Linked DNA regions of Homo sapiens: regions 2, 3, 4 and 5 are each linked to region 1. Evidence: fine-mapped expression QTL. A gene starts in region 1. Each other region holds a variant in brackets. All regions are shown on one strand. Distances are between the middles of the regions.

The links. PIP is the estimated chance that this variant, and not a neighbour inherited with it, causes the effect.
Region 2: its variant is fine-mapped to the expression of BEGAIN in whole blood (INTERVAL, PIP above 0.99).
Region 3: its variant is fine-mapped to the expression of BEGAIN in esophagus muscle (GTEx, PIP 0.97).
Region 4: its variant is fine-mapped to the expression of BEGAIN in skeletal muscle (GTEx, PIP above 0.99).
Region 5: its variant is fine-mapped to the expression of BEGAIN in whole blood (INTERVAL, PIP above 0.99).

What each region holds. Positions count from the first base shown.
Region 1 is chr14:100,584,635-100,589,444 of GRCh38, reverse strand. BEGAIN (brain enriched guanylate kinase associated) reads left to right here and starts at 2,028. Exons shown (of 7, transcript NM_001385089.1): 1 at 2,028-2,196. The coding sequence starts at 2,155.
Region 2 is chr14:100,541,914-100,546,723 of GRCh38, reverse strand. BEGAIN (brain enriched guanylate kinase associated) reads left to right here. Exons shown (of 7, transcript NM_001385089.1): 3 at 62-223; 4 at 1,658-1,724; 5 at 2,759-2,866. LOC124903382 (a long non-coding RNA gene) reads right to left here. Exons shown (of 2, transcript XR_007064334.1): 2 at 3,781-4,810. Among named protein-coding and RNA genes, the nearest start is that of BEGAIN, 43 kb to the left of the region's middle. The variant G/A (reference allele first, on the strand shown) is at 2,053.
Region 3 is chr14:100,505,313-100,510,122 of GRCh38, reverse strand. The region is part of intron 4 of WDR25 (WD repeat domain 25); the gene reads right to left. Among named protein-coding and RNA genes, the nearest start is that of BEGAIN, 80 kb to the left of the region's middle. The variant C/T (reference allele first, on the strand shown) is at 2,386.
Region 4 is chr14:100,469,032-100,473,841 of GRCh38, reverse strand. The region is part of intron 3 of WDR25 (WD repeat domain 25); the gene reads right to left. Among named protein-coding and RNA genes, the nearest start is that of WDR25, 95 kb to the right of the region's middle. The variant T/C (reference allele first, on the strand shown) is at 1,974.
Region 5 is chr14:100,615,485-100,620,294 of GRCh38, reverse strand. No RefSeq gene overlaps it. Among named protein-coding and RNA genes, the nearest start is that of BEGAIN, 30 kb to the right of the region's middle. The variant G/TCTCG (reference allele first, on the strand shown) is at 2,850.

The DNA of each region.
Region 1 (4,810 bases):
GGGCAGGGAGGGTGGGGACGGGAGGTGCGTGCAGCATGGGGGAGGGGCTCTCCTGGGGCCTTCCCAGGCAGGCCTGAGCTGAAGCCTGCAAGCTGCTGGAGCTGAAGCAGGAGCCGCCCCCACCCCACCCGCCCCTCCCCCGCCTCCCCAGCCATCTGTGGCGTTGGCAGCAGCAGTGCCAGGGCGGGCGGTGAACATTCTGGCACCATCTGAGCAGGACCAGCCTCTGGGGAAGGGCCGCAGCCCAGGAGGAGGCAATGTGGGCAGAGCCCTGCCTGTACCCCAGGTTCCACATCCCCCATTGGTGTTTGTCCCCTTAGGGACTGGGGAGGGAAGGGACACTGGAGCTGGCAGGCTGGGCCTCACTACCTCTCACAGGATGCCTCCACTGCTGTGTGCTGCCTGAATGGTGTCTGAACCTGAGAGGCCAGAGTGGAGGTCAGGGAGCCTGTCCCTACTCCTGCTGGGGAGACTAAGGCCCCCTTGAGCAAAGAGGCTGGTCCCGTGGTGCACACCAGCGACGGTTTGGGCGAAGTCTGTCCACGCTTCGCCCAAACTGGGAGAGCCCCGCCCTGAGCTGCCGCCTCTCATTTTGTCTTGACTGTGGTGGGGTGCACTTGGAGGCGCCTCCCTCTGTCCATTGGTTACCCAATCATGTCCCTGGGACCTGAGAGGGAGCAGAGACAGGACTTTGCTTGACACGAAGTGGCTCCAGTCAGCTGCTGGTTCTTTTGCTTGTCTCCTTTTTTTCTGGGTTTCCCCTCTTGCCTTGCTATCAGTGCCTTTTCTCAGCACTGACACTGCCTGAATGTAGCAACCTACTCCCCAGATTAAATGAGAGAGCGTAGAAACTGCAAAGCATACAACATACAGCATATAAGGATGGTGGTGATGGCAGCTCAACAGTGGGAACTCAGTGTCCCCAAACTGTACACTTTAAAAGTGGTTAAAATGGTAAATTTTATGTTTTCCATGTTTTCCACAATTAAAAAACAAAAATATACAAGGTACTCATTCGCAGCATCTTCTAATCTGCCATGTACTTGGAAATGATATAAGCATGTGTGAACCATGAGCCCATAGGTCCCGAGGGAGGATATGAGCGAAGCACACGGGCTTTGCCAGCTCTGTTTCCACCACGCAGGACCCTCCCTGGCTGCCAGTGCTCCTCCCCGGGTTCCCACGCTGGCTGCTGCTGGGCTGGCTGGGATGGAAGACCCTCATGTAGCTGGCACCCTCAGGGCTGCCCCTTGCCCGCTCTGGGAGGAGAGAGGAGGGTTCACGCTGCACCTTTACCAGGGTAGGACTGGCCAGCCTGGGCTCTACCGGGCAGGTCGGTGGGATGCTTCAGACTGGAGGGATAGGCAGGGGGCAACACTGGTCCTCCTGAAGCCACCTTCCCTTCCTGAGAGCTCCTTGGGGAGAAGGCAAGCCCTGGAAGCCACCGACTGGGGGCTCGGGCAGAGCAAGGGCAGGGTAAGGGGCAGCTTGGCCAGGAGGCACCCTTGGGAGCCAGGGTTTCCTCATCTGTAAAATGTGACTCTGCGAGGGCAGGAGCTTGGTTTCACTCGCTACTGTACCCCCTGGGGCCTACAGCAGGGCTGGTTGGTACACACTAGGTGTCTAATAAATGTTGAGGGATTGAATGGATGGACCGATGAAAAGGTTGGGCAGGTCATTACTGACAGCCTCTGGGTTTCAAGGGCCCATTCACTCTGTCACTCACCTTCGCGCCCGTGCATTAGTTCTCTCATTTATTCATTCCCCCCGCCCCCCCAGCCCCGCATGCTCTACCGCACTCATTCATTCACGCGCTCAGCCATTCAAGCTGGCGCGGGTTCATTCATTCCCTGCCCCTCTGCCATTCCTCGCCTGGCCCCCGCGCACGCCGCACCCCCGCGCCCCTGCCCGGCCCTGCGCCCACCACTTGCGCCCCGGCCGGGCGCTGCCGGGAGGACGCGCGGGCTCAGCCGCGGCTGCGCGGGGCCGGGGCTGGCGGGGAGCCGGGCTGGGGGCGGGGGGCGGGCGCTCCCTGCGGGAAGCCGGGCGGGGTGGGGGAGCCCCGGCCGCGCCGGCTCCCGGCGCGCTCGGCCTCGGAGGGGAGGGGGCGGCGGTAGCGGCGGCGGCGGTGAGCGGCGCGGCTGCCCTGGGGCCATGTGGACTGGCGGTCGCCGGCCGGGCCGGCTGCGCCGGGCGGTGAGTACCTGCGAGCCGGGAGGGCAGGGCGCGGGCGCGGGCGCGGAGGCGGGGCGGGCGCCACCCACGCCTGGGGCGGTCCCTGCTCAGCGCGGGAGGTGGCCGGCCCCCCGCCCCGCTCCCCTCCGCGCTGCGCCCCCGCCGTGGAGGCTTCACTGGCCCGGGAGGAGCCGGGCCGGGTCTCCTGGGAACTGGGCACTCTCGGGTGGGGCGGGGATGCCCAGCCTCCGCGCGCCGCCGGGAGCGCCCGGGTCCTATCGCGGGGTCCTTGCGCCCTGACACGCGCGCCCCTGCGGCGGAAGGAAAGGAGGGACGGGTGACCAAGGGCGCGGCCGGAGGACTGGGGACCCGCCGCTGTCCCGGGCGGGTGGCGAGGGTGCGGGCAGGCCTGGACCCGCCTGCGTCTGGGGGCAGGGCCAGCCCCTGCTTGGGAGGCCGGAGAAAGGCCCGGGAGCCGGAAGGAGGCTGGACCCGGGGCCGCCTCATTGAGCGTTTGCAGCGCGTGGGCGCGCACGAACCTCGGACACCACCATCCCATTCAGTACCTCGCGGCAGGTACTATCCTCCTGCCCCTTTACAGGCGAGGAAACTGAGGCTCAGGGAGGCCAGGGCCTCGCCCAGAGCGGCTCAGCCGGCGCGCTCACCCTCCCTGAGCCCCAGCACGTTGGATGGGAATTTCTGCCCCAGCGTTTCCGCTTCCTGCTTGGTTTAGAGGTGTTTCCTTCCTCGTCTGTGCCCCACCCCATCCCCAATGTGGTTTCCTCAGGGCAGGAACAGCGTGGGCGACGCGCTGGAGTCTCCTGAGCCGGCAGAATGGGAGCAGAGTGGGCACCCGGGAGCGGGGCCGGATGGATAGGGAGCACTGCACGTGCAAAGTCCGCATGGCCAAGGTCGGCCGCCAGTGCAGACTGGGGGTCCAGGCCCTGGGGGTATGGGTGGGGCGGGGTCTCCACAGCCAGGCTCCGTCGGAGGCCCCAGTGCTCTGGCTCTCTGGAGGCCATGGACAGGTTCTTTTCCTTCTCTGGACCCTAGTTCCTCTGCCTGCCAAGAGCAGCAGAGACCCCCACTACTCCCAGGGCCAGGCTCCCACGAGGACTGTGGGCAGAAGCCCCTAACAAACTGCGGTGTGCAGCCCTGCCAGGCTGGCCTTGGTCTTGCCAGCAGGGGCAACTGGCCGTTGGGGGTGGCTCTGCCTGGCATCTGTGACACGCAGGGCGGGGAGACGGCAGAGAGGGCCCCAGCAGCATCCTGCAAACCCTTAATTTTCCCGACTCTCACTATAATCAGGGCAGCTTGGAAAAGCAAGCACTGTGGCAGATGCGGCTCTGCCCGGGCTCAGCACACGGGCTCTGGGCGATGGGCGGCTGCGCTGCCGCCAAGGGCCCTCCCCAGCTTTTGTCTCATATTTATAGATTCCAAGGCTCCGCGTTCCGTTTGTCGTCAAAACCTGGAGCTGTTCGCACCTGGGAGCTGAGTGGGGAGGGGAGGGCTGCCTAGAACCTCAGCCTGGAGGATGAGTTTTCCATGCGCTGGGGTGGAGTAGGGGGACACCTGTCAGAGCCCAGGCCTGGAGAGAGGAAATGAGCCCTAAGCAATCTGGAAGATCTTCCATCCACTCTCCCAAGACTTGGGCGCAGGGTCTGGCCCACATAGCTGCCATTTATGGAACGCCTGCTATGTACTGGGCCCTGGATCAGCATTTCCACGCATCATCTCCACGGCAACACTTTGAAGGAGCTTCCCTACTCCTGCAGGCACTCCTGATGCTGAAGAGTGGATGGATGGATGAATGGATGGATGGATGGATGGATGGATGGATGGATGGATGGATGGGAGGGAGGGAGGGATGGATGGGAGGGATGGATGGATGGGAGGGAGGGAGGGAGGGATGGATGGATGGGAGGGAGGGAGGGAGGGATGGATGGGAGGGAGGGAAGGAGGGATGGATGGGAGGGATGGGAGGGATGGATGGATGGGATGGATGGATGGATGGATGGGAGGGAGGGAGGGAGGGAGGGATGGATGGATGGATGGATGGATGGATGGATGGATGGGAGGGATTGACTGAAGCCCATGAGTCCATGGCTATTGGACACAGTCCACAAATCATTACCCAGGGTCCCAGGAGGTGGGGTCCAAGGGCTGAGTAGTTGCTGAACAGATGAAGGGGTCAAGGTGTGTTACAGGAGCCTGGCCCAAGGCCTGAAGGTGATGGGGAGAGTGTAGAGTGTTCAAGTCTCAAGACTTAGAGAGGCTGTGTCCTGCTGGAGTGTGGAAGCCATGGCGGTGGGGAGGTGTGGCTCCTCCCCCTAAGGGAGGTAAGGATCCCTGGGACAGATGGGTGGGTGACCCTAGGACTCGCCGTGTTGGTCTAGAATCACCCCGCATGGTTCTCTTCTGACTCCCCTTCCTGCCGCAGAGCTGGTCGCTAGCCTTAGTGGAGAGGCCTGGACGGAGGTCTGCAGCCCTGGGTTCTGGTTCCTCCTCTGCCGCTGACTCACTGTCTCCTCTCTAGGGCTCCGTATCAGAAGCTTAACACCCATTACAGTCAGGGGAGTGACTTCTGTGGCCTGAGAGCAGGCATCAGATTGTAGCCTGTGGTGGGAGAAGCTGG
Region 2 (4,810 bases), 43 kb after region 1:
CGGGCCTTAGTTTCCCCCGCTCAGCGCCGCGGCCCGGCCCGCCGCCGCCATGTCGTTGCAGCGCGCTGCAGGAGCAGAAGGGCGAGCTGCGCAAGCGGCTGTCCTACACCACACACAAGCTCGAGAAGCTCGAGACCGAGTTCGACTCCACGCGCCACTACCTGGAGATCGAGCTGCGGCGCGCGCAGGAGGAACTGGAGAAGGTCACGGAGAAGCTGCGCAGGTGAGGGGCGGGGCGAGGGCCGGGGCGGGGCGAGGGCCGGGGCGGGGCGAGGGCCGGGGCGGGGCGAGGGCCGGGGCGGGGCGAGGGCCGGGGCGGGGCGAGGGCCGGGGCGGGGCGAGGGCCGGGGCGGGGCGAGGGCCGGGGCGGGGCGAGGGCCGGGGTGGGGCAGGGCCCGAGGCCCGGAAAGCCGCACGCGGTGCTCCCCTCTCACCCTGGCTGTTGACTCCACTCAGATGGGGAGTCCAGAGGTTCTGGTAGGGGAAGCTCTTCCTCCAAAGTCACACTATGGAGCAGCTGAGCCAGGATTTGAACCCAGCAGATCTCCAGACCCAGACTGGTCCACCCGGGGCCCAGCCATGGTTCCCTGGGTCCTGATGGGAAAAGCTGTGTCTAGCCCGGAGATGAACCAGTTTAGGGACCCTTCCCTTGAGCGCGTACGGGCTAATGAAGTGTCGATCCAGTTGTGCTGGACTCCCTCAAACACCAAACTTTTCTAAAAGCAGTTTTCTTGTGCACATTTAAAATGGATGTTTTTCTGAAATGTAATATGCACTTTCTCATCTTCTTAAACAGAAAATGCAAGAAGCATGCAACCTTTGCTGTTGGCTTGATTTGTTTTAGGTATTTGTAGAGAATCGGCTGGTGTTGCCCCTAGGGAGGACTTGCCATAGGGAGAGGGTTTGTCCCTCTCCGAACAGCCCCAGCTCCTGAGTGTTTTGAATGTCACCCTCCATTCATGTGGAAACCAAGCTTGGGCAGTGCAGTCAGACCTCAGTTAAAATCTGGGCCCTGCCAGTTACTGCTTTAAGTAATTAAAGTTTCACCTCAGTTTCCCTATTGGCAAGACAGGGGCCATAACACGACACATAGGTTGTCTGAGGCTGGACACCATCCCCAAGCCCCCTCCCACCAGCAATGGAATCTCCAAGCACCTGATTCCCACCTGACACTCAGCTCCACTCCTCCTACCCGGCAGAACCGAGTCTTGTTCACTGTGATGTCTCCAGCCTCACCCTGGGGCCCATCACATAGTTAGTGTTAAGTTTCTTCCCTGCTCATTTGCATTTGAACTGTCAACCCCATAACAGGTTTGTAAGAATTGTGGGTCAAATGTGAGTAAACTGGCTCCGCGTGTGGATGGGACAGAGTCTCTTGTGAATAACAAGCCTTCCCTTCCCATCTTCAGGGGGTCCCGGGGTGGAGGGGGAAATACAGTCCTGGGCCCTGGCCTAGGAAAGGCTTCTACAAAAGTTTGCTTTAATGGGATGTTCTCTGCTGTGTGCAGAGGGGCACACATTCCACCAGGGTGAAGCTGGTGGGGTGAGCTCAGGAGGTCCAAATTCAGCCCCACCCTGCTCAGCAGGCTGTGCGGCCATAAGGGTCGTGGGAGGGACAGGCCTTGCATGGCAGTGACCCCCTTGCCTCCTGCACCAGGATTCAGAGCAACTACATGGCACTGCAGAGGATCAACCAGGAGCTGGAGGACAAGCTGTACCGCATGGTGAGGCCGCCACGCAGCGCCCACTCCCCCACCCCACACCTCCTTCCCGGGGGGAGCCACCCAGCTGACACCCCTGGGCCACTCAGGAGCTGGGACACAGGTCTTGCTGGTCCCACCCCTTTCTCCATGGAACATGTGGAGCAGGGTGTGTGCTCTCAGGCTAAGGAAGTACTTGGGTCCAGGGCTGCCCTGTGCTGCCTGAGTGGCGGGTGCGAGCACTCCAGCCTGGGGGTGTGTAAGAGGGGCTGTGGACGGAGGACATACACTGGGAACGGGCCCCCCAGCTCAGCCTGCCAGTCCAAGGACCTGGGCCCAGGAGGATAGGGAG[G/A]CCCGAATTCAGGCCCTGGGTGAGCCAGAGGCAGGTTTGAGCCCCAGCTCCGCCTCTCATGGGGACCCCTCTGTGGGGACCCTCACACCACCTGCAGGTGACCTCAGTGGGGTCGCCATTTTCTCTGTGAACACACTGCTGGGACATGTCGAAGAGGGGCAGGGTGTGGGTTTCTGGTGCCACTCCCTCACTAGGATGAAGAGGTTTCCTTTCTTTCTACTTTGGTGACCAGCTCATTTTGGTTTTGAAAGCAACAACCTGCCCACCTTTGTGGTGCTATCAGAGACGGGGGGTGGCAGGCCTGGGGGCTGGGCCTGGCTCTGCCTGGGTGCCTGGACACCGGCCCTTTCCTGAGCCTCAGTTTCCCAATCTGTCCAGTGAGGTGGGCTGGGCTCTATGCCAGGCACAAGTCATCTGTCCTCCGTCCCCACTCCCAGCTCCTGAGGCAGGACGCTGTCACCTCTGTGTTGCACATGAGAAACTGAGGCTCAGAGGCAGTGACGTCCCCAAGGCTGTGTGGCTTGGCAGTGTTGGACCCAGGAATTGAACCAGGGTCTGTCTGTGCTCATAAACCCCACACCCTTGGCCCTCTAAGTGTCTTGTCACTCATGGCTACAAGGGACAAACCAGGGGGTGCAATCGAGCGACTGGGTTGGCTCACCAGGAGCCAACCACGGGCCTCCTCCTCCCACTGTCCCACCCCCAGGGCCAGCACTATGAGGAGGAGAAGCGTGCGCTGAGCCACGAGATTGTTGCCCTCAACAGCCATCTGCTAGAAGCCAAGGTGACCATCGACAAGCTGTCAGAGGACAACGTGAGTGCCGCACACACTTGGCCCATGGAAGACTGCCGGTGGGCCTAGGCGAGGGCTTCCCAGGATGCACTGGGAGTCACATTCTGACTCTGAAGGGTCCTGAGCTCAGCTGCTTTGGCCCCAGCCTCAAGGGGCTGGTGCAGGGTACAGGTGGATGGACAGGCTGGTCAGGGCTTTGAGAAGGACCTGCTGCAGTTGGGGAAAGATGGTGCTGTCTCATTGAGGACGCCAAGGGTGTCCTTAAACAGACCCTCTGCTGTAAGGACTTGAGCTAGGGGATGCGGGGCCATATTATCCCATTCAAGGCAAGGCTTCCTGATCCCAAGGTGGGGTCATGGCCACTCAGGACTCCTGCCCTTGGCCAGTCCCAGTGTTGCATCACAGCCGTGTGGCTGCCCATGGGGCCTAATTTCAGGGACCCTGTGAGATGGGCCCAGTTGCCCTCCACAGACCCTGGACAGCTGCCTCTGCATTCACGAATTAGCTTCTACCTTGCCAGACCCTACTAGGCTCCAAGATGATGGTGTGAACAACACAGGCAAAAAAAAAAACAAAAAAAAAAACACCTCTGGCCACGTGGAGTTCACATCTGAGTGGGGCAAACTCTGGGGTATGTTAGAAGTGTGAAATGCTATAGAGAAACAGAAAGCGAAGAACGGTACCAGGGAGTCGCCAGCTGCAGGGCCTGCAGATTTCAAGAGGGTGCTTCTGGAAGGGGCTGCTGTGCCAGGACCTGAGGGAGTGAAGGAGCCAGCCATGCAGACATCCGTGGGAGAAGCATTGCTTCCAGGCAGAAGCAACCGTGGTGTGCAGCTGTACCTGGTTAACTCGGAGGATCCCAAAGGGGCCAAGGAGCGCCCAGCGGGAGGGGGAGCCAGGGTCTGAGGTCAGAAAGACCATAGGAGGCAATGTTGTAGAGGCTCCTCCCAGAAACCTGGGCTTTATTCTGAGTGCAGTGGGGAGCCATGGAGGGTTCTGAAAACAGAGGAGCAACGTGATTGCACGTGCAGCTTCCCAGGGCTCACGTGGCTGCCATGCTGGAAACAGGCTGTAGGGACGAGGACAGGAGCAGGAAGATCAGGAGGAGGCCAGGACCATAGTCCAAAAGATGATGGTGGCTCAGATGACGGTGGAACTGGGCAGAGGGCTGGGATTCTGGTTGTGTTTTGAAAATAGAATCAACAGGACTAACCAAGATTTAGGATGTGGGTTGTTAGAAGAAGAGCTGAGTCCAACCCAGCTACAGGATTCAGAGCCCAAACAAAAGGAGTTGCCTGCCATTTCCTGGCTGGGGACAGCTGGGGAGGGACAGGAGCTGGGTGGGAGATGCACAGGACCCCTTGGAGCGGAGATGTCACCAGGGCAGCAGGAGGCCCGGGTCTGGAGTTGAGCGTGAAGGCCGGCATGCCGGCGGAGACTGCCCAGGCAGCATGCAGATGAGAAGCAGGGAGGCCCCAGGACGGAGTAGGGACCAGCAAGGATGCCTGGGAGGGAGTGGCCAGTAGGCTGGGGGACACCAGGCGAGTATGGTGGCCCAACAACCACTTGAGAAGGGGGCTGCAGTCAATGCCCTGGCCGGCTGGCTTGCCAGCTGCTGAGAGACCAGGTCAGAGGGCCAAGGAGAGGCATTGGGATTTGGGGAACTGGAGGTCGGTGGTGGAGTGGAGCGGTGGTTCCAGACACAGGCCACCCTTCTAAGGAGTGTGGCTCTAACAGGAGGACAGGAGGACATGGGCTCGGGACAGGAGGTGCTTCTTAACGTGACAAGGCCAGGCCCCTTACCTAAGTGGACACTAGTCCTGGGGCCCTCTCTGCAGGGTTGGTGCACATGAGGAAACTAAGGCATGGCCAGCTTGAGTGGTTTCCCAGGTGACCCAGGTGGTGTCTCGCAGACGGAGCCAGAACTCAACCTCGGGACTCCGACTCCAGCAGCCCCGGGCCCTG
Region 3 (4,810 bases), 79 kb after region 1:
ATTTTGTGTACTTCTAGTAGAGACAGGTTTTGCCATGTTGGCCAGGCTGGTCTCGACCTCCTGACCTCAAGTGATCCACCCACCTCAGCCTCCCAAAGTGCTGGGGTTACAGGTGTGAGCCACCATAACCAGCCTACAAAAAATTTTTTTAATTAAAAAAAAAAAGAAATCAATGGAACAGAAGAGAGAGTACAACAATAGACCTAAATCTATTTAGCCAATTGATTTCCACAGAGAGGTAAAGGCACAGATATTGTTTTCAACAAATGCTGCAGAAATTTGATTATCCACAGGCAAAAACATGAAACTACATCCATACCTGTACCATACACAAAAAATTAATACTAAATAGATCACAGACTTTAATATGAAGCCCAAAACTATACAACTTCTAGAAGTAAACACAGGGGCACAAAAACTTTTGAAGGTAATGGATGCATTATTTATCTTGATTGTGGTAACTATTTCATGGATGTATACATATATGAAAACTTAAACTGTACATTTTGAATATGTGCAGCTTATTGTATGTCAGTTATATTTCCATAAAAGTATAAAAAGGGCAGGACACGACAAAAATGAAGGAAAAATAAAGACATTTTTGATAAACAAAAACAGAGAATTCCCCACCACAAACCTGTATTATAAGAAATGCTAAAGGAAGTTCTGCAGCCTGGGGGGTAGTGATACCAGATTGGCACTCAGATCAACAAGAAGAAATGAAGACACCCCAGCCATTAAAAAATAAAGTTAAAAACAATTTTAGAGCAATAAATTTGACAATTTAGATAAAATGGAAAAATTCCTTAGAAGATAAAAGATAACAAAAACAACTAAAGGAGAAATAGGACACCTGAATGGCCCACGTTACACATAGTTAATTTTTTTTGTGATTCAATATCTACCTACAAAGAAAGTCTTGTGTCCAGATGTCTTCACTGCTGAATTCTATCAAACATTTAAGGAAGAAATAATACCAATCTTATACAAACATTCAAAAACATAAGTAGAGAACATTTCTCAGTTCACTTTTCTGAGGTCAATATTAATCTCACATCAAAATGAGACAAAGAATATAGGAAAAAATGTATCGATCAATAATCCTCATTAACATAGATTTTAAAAATCCTTAACAAATTATTAGCAACTTGAATTAAACTCTATATAAGGACAATATATCATAAAACCAAATAGGAAAGATATGGTTTAACTTTAAAAAAAATCAATGTAATTCAACATATTAGCAGAACATAGGAAAACATATAGATGTAGTAAAATCATTTTTGACAAAATTCAACACCAATATATGATTTTTAAAAAATTCATACAACTAAGAATAGAAGGTAGCTTTCTTAAACTGACTTAAGGTATCTATGAAAAACCAACATCTAACATCATACTTAATGGTAAAAGACTGATTGTTTTCCCTACAAAATGAGAAACAAGACAAAAATGTCCATTTTCACAATTTCTATTCAGTATTGTACCGAAAGTTCTAGTCATTGTAATACAGCAAGAAAAATAAATAATTGCACATGCATTAGAAAGAAAGCTGTAAAATAATACAGACTACATGATCATGTAAATTAAAATTTCTAAGTAATCTAGGAAAAAGCTACAAGAACTAAGAAGTGAATTTTAGTAAGGTCACATGATACACAGTCCATATAAAAGAGTCCTGTATCTTGCCTGATTGTTCTGGCTAGGACTTCCAGTACTACATTGAATTAGGAATGGTGAGAGTAGGCACCCTTGTCTTATTCCAGTTCTCAAGGGGAATGCTTCCAGTTTTTGCCCATTCAGTATGAAGTTGGCTGTGGGTTTGTCATAGACAGCTCTTTTTATTTTAAGGTATGTTCCTTCAAGGCCTAGTTTCTTGAGGGTTTTTATCACGAAAGGATGTTGGATTTTATTGAAAGCTTTTTCTGTGTTTATTGAGATAATCATATTATTTTTGTTTTCAATTCTGTTTATGTGGTGAATCACATTTGTTGATTCACATATAATGAACCAACTTTGCATCCGAGGAATGAAGCCTACTTGATCATGGTGAATTAACTTTTTGATGTGCTGCTGGATTTGGTTCACTAGTATTTTGTTGAGGATTTCTGCATCTATGTTCATCAGGGATATTGGCTTGTAGTTTTCTTTTTTTCTTGCCAAGTTTTGGTATGAAATGTTGGCTTTGTAGAATGAGTCAGGCAAGAGAAATAAAGGGCATTGAGATAGGAAAAAATAAGTCAAACTATCTCTCTTCACAGATGATATTATTCAATATTTAGAAAACCCTAAAGACTATGCCAAAGGGCTCCTGGAACTAATAAATGACTTCAGTAAAGTTTCAAGATAAAAATTCAATGTGTAAAAATCTGTAGCATTTCTATA[C/T]ACCAATAACATTCAAGCTGAGAACAAATCAAGAATACAATCCCATTTGCAATACCATTTGCAACAGCCATAAAAAAAAAAAAAAACACAAATACCTAGGAATACATCTAACCAAGAAGGTGAAAGATCTCTACAAGGAGAACTACAAAATACTGCTGAAAGAAATCATAAACGACACAAACAAATAGAAAACCATTCCGTGCTCATGGATTCGAAGAATCAATATCATTAAAATGACCATACTGCCCAAAGCACTCTATAGATCCAATGCTATTCCTATCAAACTACCAATATCATTTTTCACAGAACTAGAAAAAACTGCTCTAAAATTCATATGAAACCCAAAAAGAGCCCAAATAGCCAAAGCAATCTTAAGCAAAAAGAACAAAGCTGGAGACATCCTATTACTTGACCTCAAACTATACTATAAGGCTACAGTAACCAAAACAACATAGTACTGTACAAACACAGACACATAGCCCAATCAAACAGAATAGAGAACCCAGAATAAAGCTGCACACCTGCAGCCATCTGATCTTCAACAAAGTCAACCAAAATAAGCAATGGGGAAAAGATTCCCTTTGCAATAAATGGTGCTGGGATAGATGGCTAGCCATATACAAAAAAATGAAACTGGCCCCTGCCTTTCACCATATACAAAAATTAACTCAACATTTAAATGTAAGACCTCAAACTTTAAGAATCCTATAAAAATAAAACCTAGGAAACATCATTTTGGACATCAGCCTTAGGAAAGAATTTATTGCTAAGTCCTCAAAAGCAACTGCAATAAAAACAAAAATTAACAAGCAGGACCTAATTAAACCAAAGAGCTTCTGCACAGCAAAATAAACTATCCAGAGAGTAAACAGACAACCTACAGAATAGGAGAAATATTTGCAAACTACGCATCTGACAAAGCTGTAATATCCAGAATCTATAAGAAACTTAAACAATTGAACAAGCAAAAAAACAAATAACCCTATTAAAAAATGGGCCAAAGACATGAATAGACACTTCTCAAAAGAAGACATACAGGCAGCCAGCAAATATGAAAAAATGTTCAACATCACTAGTCAGCAGAGAAATGCAAATCAAAATCACAATGAGATAACTTCTCACACCAGACAGCATGGCTATTACTAAAAAGTCAAAAAAATAACAGGTGCTAGCAAGGCTGCAGAGAAAAAAGAACACTTATACTCTGTTGGTGGGAATGTAAGTTATTTCAGCCATTGTGGAAAGCAGTTTGGAGGTTTCTCAAAGAACATAAAACAGTACTACCATTTATCCCAGCAATCCCATTACTGGGTATATATCCAAAAGAAAATGTTATTCTACCAAAGAGACACATGCACTCACGTGTTCATCACAGCACTATTCACAATAGCAAAGACATGGAATCAATCTAGGTGCCCATCAACAGTAGATTGAATACAGAAAATGTGGCAAATATACACCATGGAATACTATGCAGCCATAAAAAAGGATGAAATCATGTCCTTTGCAGCAACACGGATGAAGTTGGAGACCATTTTCCTAAGCAAATTAATGCAGGAACAGAAAACAAAAATACTCCATGTTTTCACTTATAAGTGGAAGCTAAACTTTGGGTACTTGTGGAAATAAAGATGGCACAATAGACACTGTGGTCTAGAGGGTGGAGGGAGGGAGCGGGCAAGGGTTGAAAAACTAACTGTTGAGTACTATGCTCAGTAACTGGGTGAAGGGATCAATCATACCCGAAACCTCAACATCACGCATTATACCCAGGTAACAAACCTGCACGTGTATCCCCTGGATCTAAAATAAAAGTTGAAATTATTTTTTTAAAAAGAAAGTTAATAGTATTTCTATATACTAATACCAAACAACTGGAAAATGAAATAAAATATAAAATTCCACTCACATTAGTATCCAAAAACATGAGAAACTGAGGAATAAATTAATACAACATGTGTAACATCAAACACTGAAAACTACAAAACACAGCTGACAGAAACTAAAGAAGAGCTAAATAAATGAAGAGATGTGCTATGTTCATGGATAAGAAGATGCAACATTATTAAGATGTCAATTATCCCCAAACTGATCTACAGATTGGACCCAATAGATATCTTTGTAGAAAAAGATAAGTTGATTGTAAAATTGAAATACGAATGTAAAGAACCTAGAATAGCCAGAAAAATCTTGAAAAAGAAAAGCAAAGTTTGAGGCTTAAACTTCTCAATCTCAAAAATTATTATAAAGCTACAGTAACCAAAAGAGTATGATATTGGTAAAATGATAGACACATCAATCAATAGAACAGAACTGACAAGCCAGAAAGAGAACCTCATGTGGCAAATTGATTTTCCACCAAGGCTCCAAAAACAATCTAATGAGGAAAATAATGTCGTTTCAACAAATGCTGCCAAAACAACTG
Region 4 (4,810 bases), 120 kb after region 1:
AAAGCCAAAGAACGGAGAAGCCCAGGCCCCTCCACGGCACTTCTTCCAAGGACCGGCAGGAGCCAGCACCACCTCAAAGGCTTAGCACAACAAGGAGCCTCCTTCTGTGGCCCCTTCTCCAAAGCCCAGGAGCTCTTGGGGCTCTTTGCCATGGTTTTCATTTGGACACTTCTCACCCTTCCCATGCCAAGTGGTCTAAAGTCGTCATTGGAGCGTGGCCATCCATCACTGAAGAGGCATCTTTCCCTCAGTGGCCCACTTAATCAGAGGGATCAGTCCCCATGAGTCTGGAGCACTCCTTCTTCCCAGAGGCCCCATGTTATCCTCTGCAGGTGGCCAGCTGCTGCCCAGCAGGCTCCCCAGGAGTCAGGTTAAGTTGGGTTCCCCATTGTTTCCCTGTTTGTTCACAGCAGGGAAACAGACGTGGGGAGGGCATGCCACACCATACCTCAACAGCAGGAGCTCTACTAGTCACATGCCAGCACTGGATCCCACCTCTGTCACCTCAAGAAAGTCACTGACCATGCTAAGCCTCAGTTTCTGGGTCCATGAAATGGGATTAAAAACACTCCTCTCACAGGAGGAGTCACATAAGCAAAGAGTCTACCATCCACTCACTCATTTCACCTCCACACAGGCCAGGCAGCGTGCTGGAACCCAGGGCACATAGCCCAGGGCCCAGCCCACAGCAAGGGCTCGATAACCTGTCATTCTCTTTTTCCTTGTAGCATTTCTGTGAATGGAAGCCCCAGTCATAGATTGAAAACAAGGGAGAGACAAGAAGACACCTCTTGGAAAGCAAGGAGAAATGGTCATTTATGAGCCCAGTCCCAGTTGGCTGCTCACTTCCACACAACATGACTCCCACCAAAAGACACTGGGACACCCAGGGCAGGAGGAGCCAGCCAAAAGCTGGGGACAGCAGAGCTGCAGGCTGTGGGCATCTGAAGGAAGAGGGCCATAGGCCTCCTGCAGCCATGAGTGCCTGGGGCTCTGGAGAGGGTCAGGCCGGGCAGGCTGGGGGTCTGTATACCCACTCGAGAGCCCTAATAAAGAGTGCGTGTTGTCCCATTACCAGGAGGAAGGGGAATGTGGAGGAGATGCTGGGAGAACCCATGATGGCCCAAGGCCTCCTCCCAGTCTGCCCCCAAGACCCACGCAGGGGACCAACAGCACATCTGTAAGCTCACTGAGGGGACCAGCAGGGGCCTCTGGATGATGATCGAAAAGTGGCCCCATGTGGGGAAATGGCCTGCCAACAAGGGCCATCTGGACAGCTTAGCAGGAACAAGGGCCTCATGGGCCATGACGGAGGAGGAGAGGAGTTCCTTGCTGAGGACCTACCACACGCCAGGCATTCTGCAAAGCACCCTATATGTGTTATCACAGCTGCTCCCTTCAACAGCCCCAGCACCAGGTGGTGTGGTAGAAACAGGTGAAGAGGCCTGGTTCGGGGAGGCAGAAGAGCCAACACCTGTACCCTGTCTATGTGCCCTCTCACGCGTGCTGCCTCCAGGATCTGGGAGGTAGACCCAGGTGGCACTGCACAGATGGCTCAGAGGAGCCAGCGCACATCAGGAGAGCCGGCCCATGCACAGGAAGGAGGACAGGGTTCCCTGCCCAGCCGGGGCTCCAGGGCTCCAGGAAGAGGAATCTCCTTTGCAGCCATCAAAGGTAAAGGACAGAGGCCCTGCATGCCTCTACAGCTGCAGCCTCGAGGGTCAGGCTGGGACACCTGCCTCAGGGCCTGGAGTCTGCAAGAAACATGACAGGACCGCTTAGAACTGAGGGAGCTCTCCGGGGGATTCTGAGGAGACTGGCTGAGCTGGCGTGTGGCACAGCTGACTCATAAGACAGGTGACACTCAGGGCCCTGGTGGAGTCGGCCAGCGTTCCCTGAGGCCACCTCAGCCTAACGTGCCACAGACGTTTTGTTAGGAAGATTACAGACTGAAACAAGAGCACCAAAAATAA[T/C]TGTGAGCAAGTTTTATTTAAGTGTTGATTCATGGTTGTTCTATAAGCCAACAACCTGTCAGAACTATAAATTAATGAGATAAAATGGTGCTGGCCCTCCGTATTTCAGGCCAGGTATTGACATTACAGAATCCACAGATTTTTAACTGTATTGATTGAGGACACCAGGATAAATGGCCTTGGCGCCAAATTAATGACAATGGGCACCAAGTGACTAATTCCCAAAGCGCTGCGGTGAGAACGCCCTGCACTGCCTTCTCCTGGCAGGGAGCCCTAATTAGATTGAAATGAAAAAGCCAAATCACCAAGGGCGGAAAAAGGCAGATCCAGTAGAAAGGGAGATCAGACTCAGCGAAGAGAAAGGACAAGACAAGTCAAAGCGGGACGAAAGCCACAGGGCCTGCAGAGCCCACCCCAATGGCTAAAGAGAGCACTTACCAAAAGCTGGAGGTGGGATGTGCAGAGATAAGGTAGGAGACATAGGGGGAGACATAGGTGGAGGCCCCCCGACCAGCCCTGGCAGTCCCTGATGGGCTTCACTGCCCAGATAGGAGGACCTGGCAAGGACAAACTCAGCACATCTTACCCACACAGGTACTGAGCAGCTGCTCCAAGCCAGCCCTGGCCAGAGGATAGAGACACAAAGACCACCAGGACAGGCTCCCATCCTCATGGAGCTCCCAAGCCAGCCAGGGAGAGGGACATGGAAACCAACCACCCTCAGCAGCAGAGACCCTGTCTGTGTGTGCAGCGCTTCCCCAAGGGTGAGGTCCAAATCCCTCAACCATTCTCTCCCAGGGGCCCACCACACTCTCCACTGTGGCCTCAGCACCAAGTCCTACACGCAGTGGGTGCACAATAAGCAACTGCGGAGTGAACGAAACGGGGCCTTCAAGAGTTGAATTCAACAGTTCATTCAACAGTTGAATGAACCCAGTGGTGAGCGCCATTCCTAGCAGAGGGATGGAGTGAAGAAGTCCTCAATCACCTCCCCCACTGGATGGTAATGCCCTGGGGGCAGGGCCATGCTTTTCTTTACACACCCAACACACCACAGCTAGAGGGGCACATTGGGCCTGGGGCCAGACAAGCTGTTCTCCAAACGCAGTCCTATCACCAACCAGGCAAGGCATTCTACCTCCCACTCCTCCAACTCTCCACCAGGGGCTGCAGGTCACACAGGACCAGTGGGAGCTACCAAGGAGGACTACTCAAAGCACAGACCAAGCCCTGACTCTTGCCTGCTTCAAACTCAGCAATGGCCTCTGCCCGCCAGCTGCTATGGCAGTCCCTGACTCATCAGACAGGAGGACCCTCTTTGAATGTCTAAAAATTTCAGAACCCCCTGTCAAGACACCCCACTCACACCCACCCACACATACAATTGCATGCATTTGTTTAACTTCTGTTGATTGAGAGAATAATGCTTAAGGGCCACTATGAACCCATCAATGCCATCAAATGAATTTGATTTGAGTAATCCGACGGTGTGTGTGAGTGAGCTTGTCACTCTGTGAGCGGTGTGCTACCCACATGTGCTCACCTGACCCACAGGCTGGGGTTTCCCCTCCTGCACTCCTCAGACTCATCTGCCCCAGCCCCTGCACCCCATATTACATCCTGCTTTGGTTTCCATGCATACTACATGGAACCCTGTTCCTGTGTCAGCTCTGTCCTTGTTCCATCTGCAAGAACCTACTTTCCTCCTCATCAACCATACCTCCTCCATCCTAATTCTCTGTCCACCTAATCTGTGGCTCAGCTCAGGTTTCACTTCCTCCAGGAAGTCTTCCTTGATTTTCCAATCTAGATGTTCTTGCAATTCCTGTGTCTTTCTCCATCACTGCAATTTGGGATTGACTCTGCACTTCTGTCTTCTCCAGCAGACAGGAGCTTCTCCAGGGTAGGCACTGGGTCTTGTTCAGCTCTGTCTCGCCTATCAAGCATATCTTATGGGACATGCAGACAACAGAGTGTAACAGTCAGGCAGCAGGCTTTGGGGCCTAGCAGACCTGCGTGCATCCTGGCTCTGTCACTTGCTGGTTTGTGCCCCTGGCCAGTGTGTGTACAGCTGATTCTGATGGCGCCTGTCTCAAAGGGTGAGTGGGGCCTAAATAAGATGCTGTATAGAGGCTGTGGAAGAATGCCCAGCACACAGTGCTCAGTAGTAAGTGCTGCCATCATCAGCCCAGTCATCACCATCATCAAGTGGCATCAAACTCCCTGAGTCTGGCCACTCTGCAAGGGGTTAAGAGAATCAGTAAGACCAGGGAAGTGCTTTGTGAGAAGAAACTGCCACACACGGCACGGTGGGAAGGGCACAGAATCTGTAGTTGTACAGACATGGCTTCAAATCCCTGCTGGCTATGCACCACTGGGAGGCACTGAGCAAGCTGCTTTGCCCCTCTGAGCCTCAGTTTCCTCTCCTTTAAAATGGAAATAATCACTGCTGGCAGCTGCAGTGAGGATTAGACATGCTGTGTGCAAAGCCTATAGCACGTGGCAGGGGCCCTGTGACCATTAGTACTGTCCCCTCCCCTACTGAGCATGCAAGGAGCTGCAAGGCCGCCCACACTCAAGGTGGAAACAAACCACCTTCTCCATTTTCCCTCTGCGTCTCCTGGGGGCTGCTGGGCATGAGTGGCAGGGGTTGGACCAGCAAGTTATCATCTCCTTCTTGCCAGACCCTAGGAGAGGCAGGGCCCAGAGCCACCACCACTGCGGGGCTAGGCAGGCAAGATGCTGGCCTGAGGGTTCAAGGGGAGCCCCAGGGACTGGTGTGAAGTCTGGCCTCTCCCTGGGCTCCTGGCAGTGGAGCCCAGCAGAAATGAGACCGA
Region 5 (4,810 bases), 31 kb before region 1:
ACTTCTCCTGGCCGAGCCACTGCACCGTTACTGCTCTATAGATCTGACTTCCAGCTGCCAGCCTCCTGTCAACCAAAGGGTGAAGTTTTCCTAATGAGGATCCTTTTTATGCACTCAGGCTGGAGCTCATGTAGGAGCTAATTAATTTTAGGTTCCACATGAACGCAACAGCTGAAAATTAGCACTTGCAGAAAGCCAGTCCCAGCCATTCCCCTAAATTGCAGGGGGGGCCTGGAAGCCAGAGGTGCTGACAGCTCCTGGCAGGAGAGCACCAACCTTAGCTGCTTCTTCTCCACCCCTCCCAGGCAAGGCCTCCCTGGACCAGCCTTTCCCTCAGGGCTCAGGACCACAGGGAGGGTGCACAGGAGAGAGGCCACAGGCGCCCCCAGCCTCCAGCCAGGGTCCCTTGGGCTCACAGCCCTTGAAGGGTCCCTGGAGATGTGCTGTCTTAGGTGATCTCTGCCCTCAGCTTGCTGCAGCTCTGCTCCTGAACTAGACTGGGCTCCCTGGCGGCAGGGCCCAGGTCACTCCTATCTCTAGTTATCCAGCAGCTTCCAAATTAGTCTCATTTCATAAGTCACCCCTGCCTCCAGGAGTGTAGGGGAAACTGCTGCAAATGTTGGGCAAAGCCTGGATCCCCGACTTCCCCTCCCAGTCGGGTGACCTGTAAGCCTGTCACCAGGGTCCTGAGTATCCCTGTCAAATGGGGGTGATGCCGCCCACTCCCAGGGCTGTGAGGCTCAGGCGAGATCATCATGGCAACTGTGACGGTGATGGCAGTGTTCACTCATTGTCAGTGGCATTGCATGAACTTGACACGCCTTGTGCTCTTCTGACGGCCACACAAATCCAGACAACACTGGAGAAATCTTTCCTTTGAGCAAACTGAGCCTGTACCTCAGAGCCAGACTGGGTTTTGCATGGAAGGCTTGCAAAGTGCCCCAGCTTCAGGTCTCACGGAGCTGGGAGCAAATCCCAGCTTCAGCTTCTCTTCCTGACTCCAACGCTTCAAATGACATGTCTATAAAATAAGGCGAATATAGGTCCCAAGTCCCTTCTCCAGAAGCCTCAAGGCCAGATGTCTACTAGAAATTCAAGTTGTGTGGCTCTCAGACAGGTCACATGGCACTTATACCATCTATTACATAACAACCCCCAGGGGCCGGGATAGCACTTCCTAATCAAACATCCATATCTCCCAGTGTGATGTGTGCATATTGACTCCAAGGGATCAATAAAGATCACAAATAGCCTTGTGTCGAATCACATCTGGCTGTGCTGCCAAGCTTAGGAAAACGTTCTCAATGTTTAGAGCACGGTGCATTTGGAAGTGAGGATAAGGGCTGCGGTGAGGCTTAAAGGCGCTCGTGTGCTTAGCAGCGAGCCTGGCTGGCAGAAACTGCTCCTGCTACCACCATTAATTTTCTGGGTGCAATGACAAACAAGGCAGCATTTGACAGAAAATGTCAGCTCCTGCTGTGACCAACCCCCACCACCCTCCCCTGGCAGCAGAATCTTGGGAGGCTCTACTGGCACCCAAAGTCCAATCACCCTTAGAAGTCAGATGGTGACCCTATCCTTTCTGGACTCACAGAACCTTCTCACAAAGAGGATTTGAGCCAAAACATTATAACGTTTCCCCCAGTCTTCCTCCCAGGAAGAGTAGCAGTGACCTGACTTCTTCATTTTTCTCACCCCTCCCGCCAGGGCAGAGAAAACCCCATCAGAGCCACAGCTCTGATCCTACTTCCCCAGAAAGCTCTGGGCAGCCAGCCGCAGCTGCTCACAGGAAGAGACACTCCTCGGCAGTGGCAGCTCCCTCCCCGTGCCAGGACCCTGGCTGCCTACGATGAGGGTGGGCAGGAGGCAGCCTCGTCTTTCAGAAGGGCAGAGACGCCCACTGAGAACTGAGCATCATTTAAAAAGGAGCAACCCATTAAAAAGATCCTAAGAAGGACCCACGCATTTGATCAGTGCCCCACTCAGGGCCCTGGAGCCTGCTATCATCCTTCAGAGAAGTGAGGGTGGGATCTGCTTCTGCATGAAGGCCTCATTCAAGCCACTCCAGCAGAGAACCCTCCAGAGACTGGCCTCCGATTCCGAGCACGTGCCGAGCTGGCAGGCGCAAGCAGGCACACAGATTAAAACTCCCTATGGTTTGCACAACTGAGCTCTTGTCTTAGCTTTCGAACAGTGTTATTTTAGGAAGGTTCCCAAACAAGCGAGGCTTTCTGAAAGCCGGCCCTCCTTAAGGCGGTCTTTGTTTTTAGCTCAAACTCTACTGGTTCTGGTCCCATCCCAGGGACCAAAGTCCTTAAGGCTTCTCTCTTCCTCATAAGAAGGATATGTTGGATGTTCATTTAGGAAGTTCGACAGCCGGAAGGAAGCCGGGTGCCCCCAGGAGTTCTTGCCCAGGAAGCCCTGTCCAGTCCAGCCTGCCAGGTCTCCCGCAAAACGCAGCTTCTAACCCAGGCTGCCTCCCTCCCACGCACACCAAGGGGAACCAGCATCTGTCACTCCAGTTTCTCTAGAGGTTAGGGATCTCCCCAGTTGCTTTGACCAATAGGAGACAAGAGTTTGGGATCATTTCTTCTCCCTCCCACCGCCCATACACATGCTCCACATAAGAATTTTCAGGCAGCCTCTGAAGTCATCCCAGGAGACAGAACAAAGGCTGTGCTTCTCCTGCGCTCTCCTGTGCACAGCCTCCCCCACTCCCCTTTTCCCTCACTCCAACTTTCCAGGGTGGCACCCTAACACAGATCTACCAGGAAGCAGCTACCCGGTGAGCTCTGAGCTGAGGCAGGAAGTCTCCTCTCTCTCTCTCTCTCTCTCTCTCTCTCTCTCTC[G/TCTCG]CTCTCTCTCTCTCGCTCTCTCTCTCTCTCTTGCTCTCTCTCTCTCAACTACTCTAGGATAACCTATAAGAGGGAACCGACATCAACTGCTCTTTCTCAAAATCCTGCTCACCAAGGTGACAGTCAACATATCCAGCACTCCGTTCTGCATGGACATCTGCCAATCAGAGAGTCGCTGTGACATAAGGGACAGTCCACAAGTTCACCCTCACTTCTGACACCAGCTGAGGGTTTGGAGGTTCCCAAGACCATGCTTCGTTTTCAAAATTTGATGGAAGGACTCACAGAACTCACTGAAAGCTGCTATGCTCACAGTGAGCTTATGAAAGGGACAGATTAGACTCTGCTGAGGGAGGAGGTACATGGGGCAGAGTTCAGGAAAGTTCCAGACACGGGGCTTCCCGTTGTCTTCTCCCCATGGGGTCATGGACAGTGTTACTTCCTGTGACATGGGGTTTTGTCAACTAGGGAAGCTCGCCCAAGCTTTGGCATTCAGCTCAGGATCTTCTCTGGGGCCTCTACCGTCAATCATCTACCTGGGAGACCCCAGTCAAAAGCTTCCCCCAGACATCCAGCTGATACCGTGTTACCGTGTGACTCAAACTGCCCACCTCAAATCACCTTGTTAGACTTGCTGGTCTGGCCCAAAGCCTGCAGGGAGAAGACACTCTTTGGCAGGACATTCCAAGGACCTAGAGGTCACCTCCCAGGAGTTGAAAGCAAAGACCTGAACTCTTTTTTGGGCAAGGCAAAATTCTTTTCTACAACCAACCAATCAACCAACCGGCACAGCCACATCCACGTGTGCTGCTGGCCATCATTCCGTGGGTCTGTGGAATCTTCCAGAAGTTGTCAGGAGCAGCGGCTACATCCACAGGTGCTGTCCAGGGTCCCCCAACATTGTGCACCCCATCTTTCTTCTGCTGCCCTGTCCACTCTGGCCGGCTCTTCAATCCTGTGTCCTCCCGTATGTCTGGCCCAGCCTCCACGTGGAGCGACTGCATTGCGGACTGGCCGGCACAATCGCAGATTTCTTTGGGGATGTGGTGTCCAATAGCCTAGGGCAGACAGGCAACCTCCTGGGCCGTCTTCATTCAGAGAGCAGCTTCCACATGGAAATCCCGGGCCACAATATCTCAGTATTGTATTTGTGTTTTTAGTAGAGACGGGGTTTCACTCTGCTGCCCAGGCTGGTCTCAAACTCCTGAGCAGCAATGTAGCCATGTGACTGCTGCTTATTCCCCAAAAAGACCAACAGAACCATTGCTCCGAGGCAAGGCGGAGCTGACTACCTCCTGCCAGCTACTGCTTAAGGATCTGGGTCAGGTCCCAGGAGAGGAGGGCAGGGCTAACACTTACAGGGCTTGGGGGTCTGGGCTGGAGGAGTTCAAAGCAGGCCTTTCAATATGGAGATTGGCAAAGGTTTTTTGTTTTGTTTTTTTCTCTTAGAATTTTTAAGAATTGGCCGGGCACAGTGGCTCATGCCTGTAATCCCAGCGCTTTGGAAGGCCAAGGCGGCGGATCACCTGAGGTCAGGATTTCAACAACAGCCTGGCCAACAATGGTGAAACCCTGTCTCTACTGAAAATACAAAAATTAGCCGGGTGTGGTGGTGGGCACCTGTAATCCAAGCTACTCGGGAGGTTGAGGCAGGAGAATTGCTTGAACCCGGGAGGCAGAGGTTGCAGTGAGCCAAGACGGCACCACGGCACTCCAGCCTGGGTGCCAGATTGAGACTCCATCTCAAAAAAATAAAAATAAAAATAAAGAATTTTTTTAAATTGTGGTAATATATATATATATAACATAAAAGATACCGTTTTAACCACTTTTAAGTGTACAGTTCAGTGACATTAAGTACGTTCACATTGAGGCCAGGTGCAGTGGCTCACGCCTGTAATGCCAGCCTTTGGGAGACCAAGGCGGGTGGATCATGAGGTCAAGAGATCAAGACCATCCTG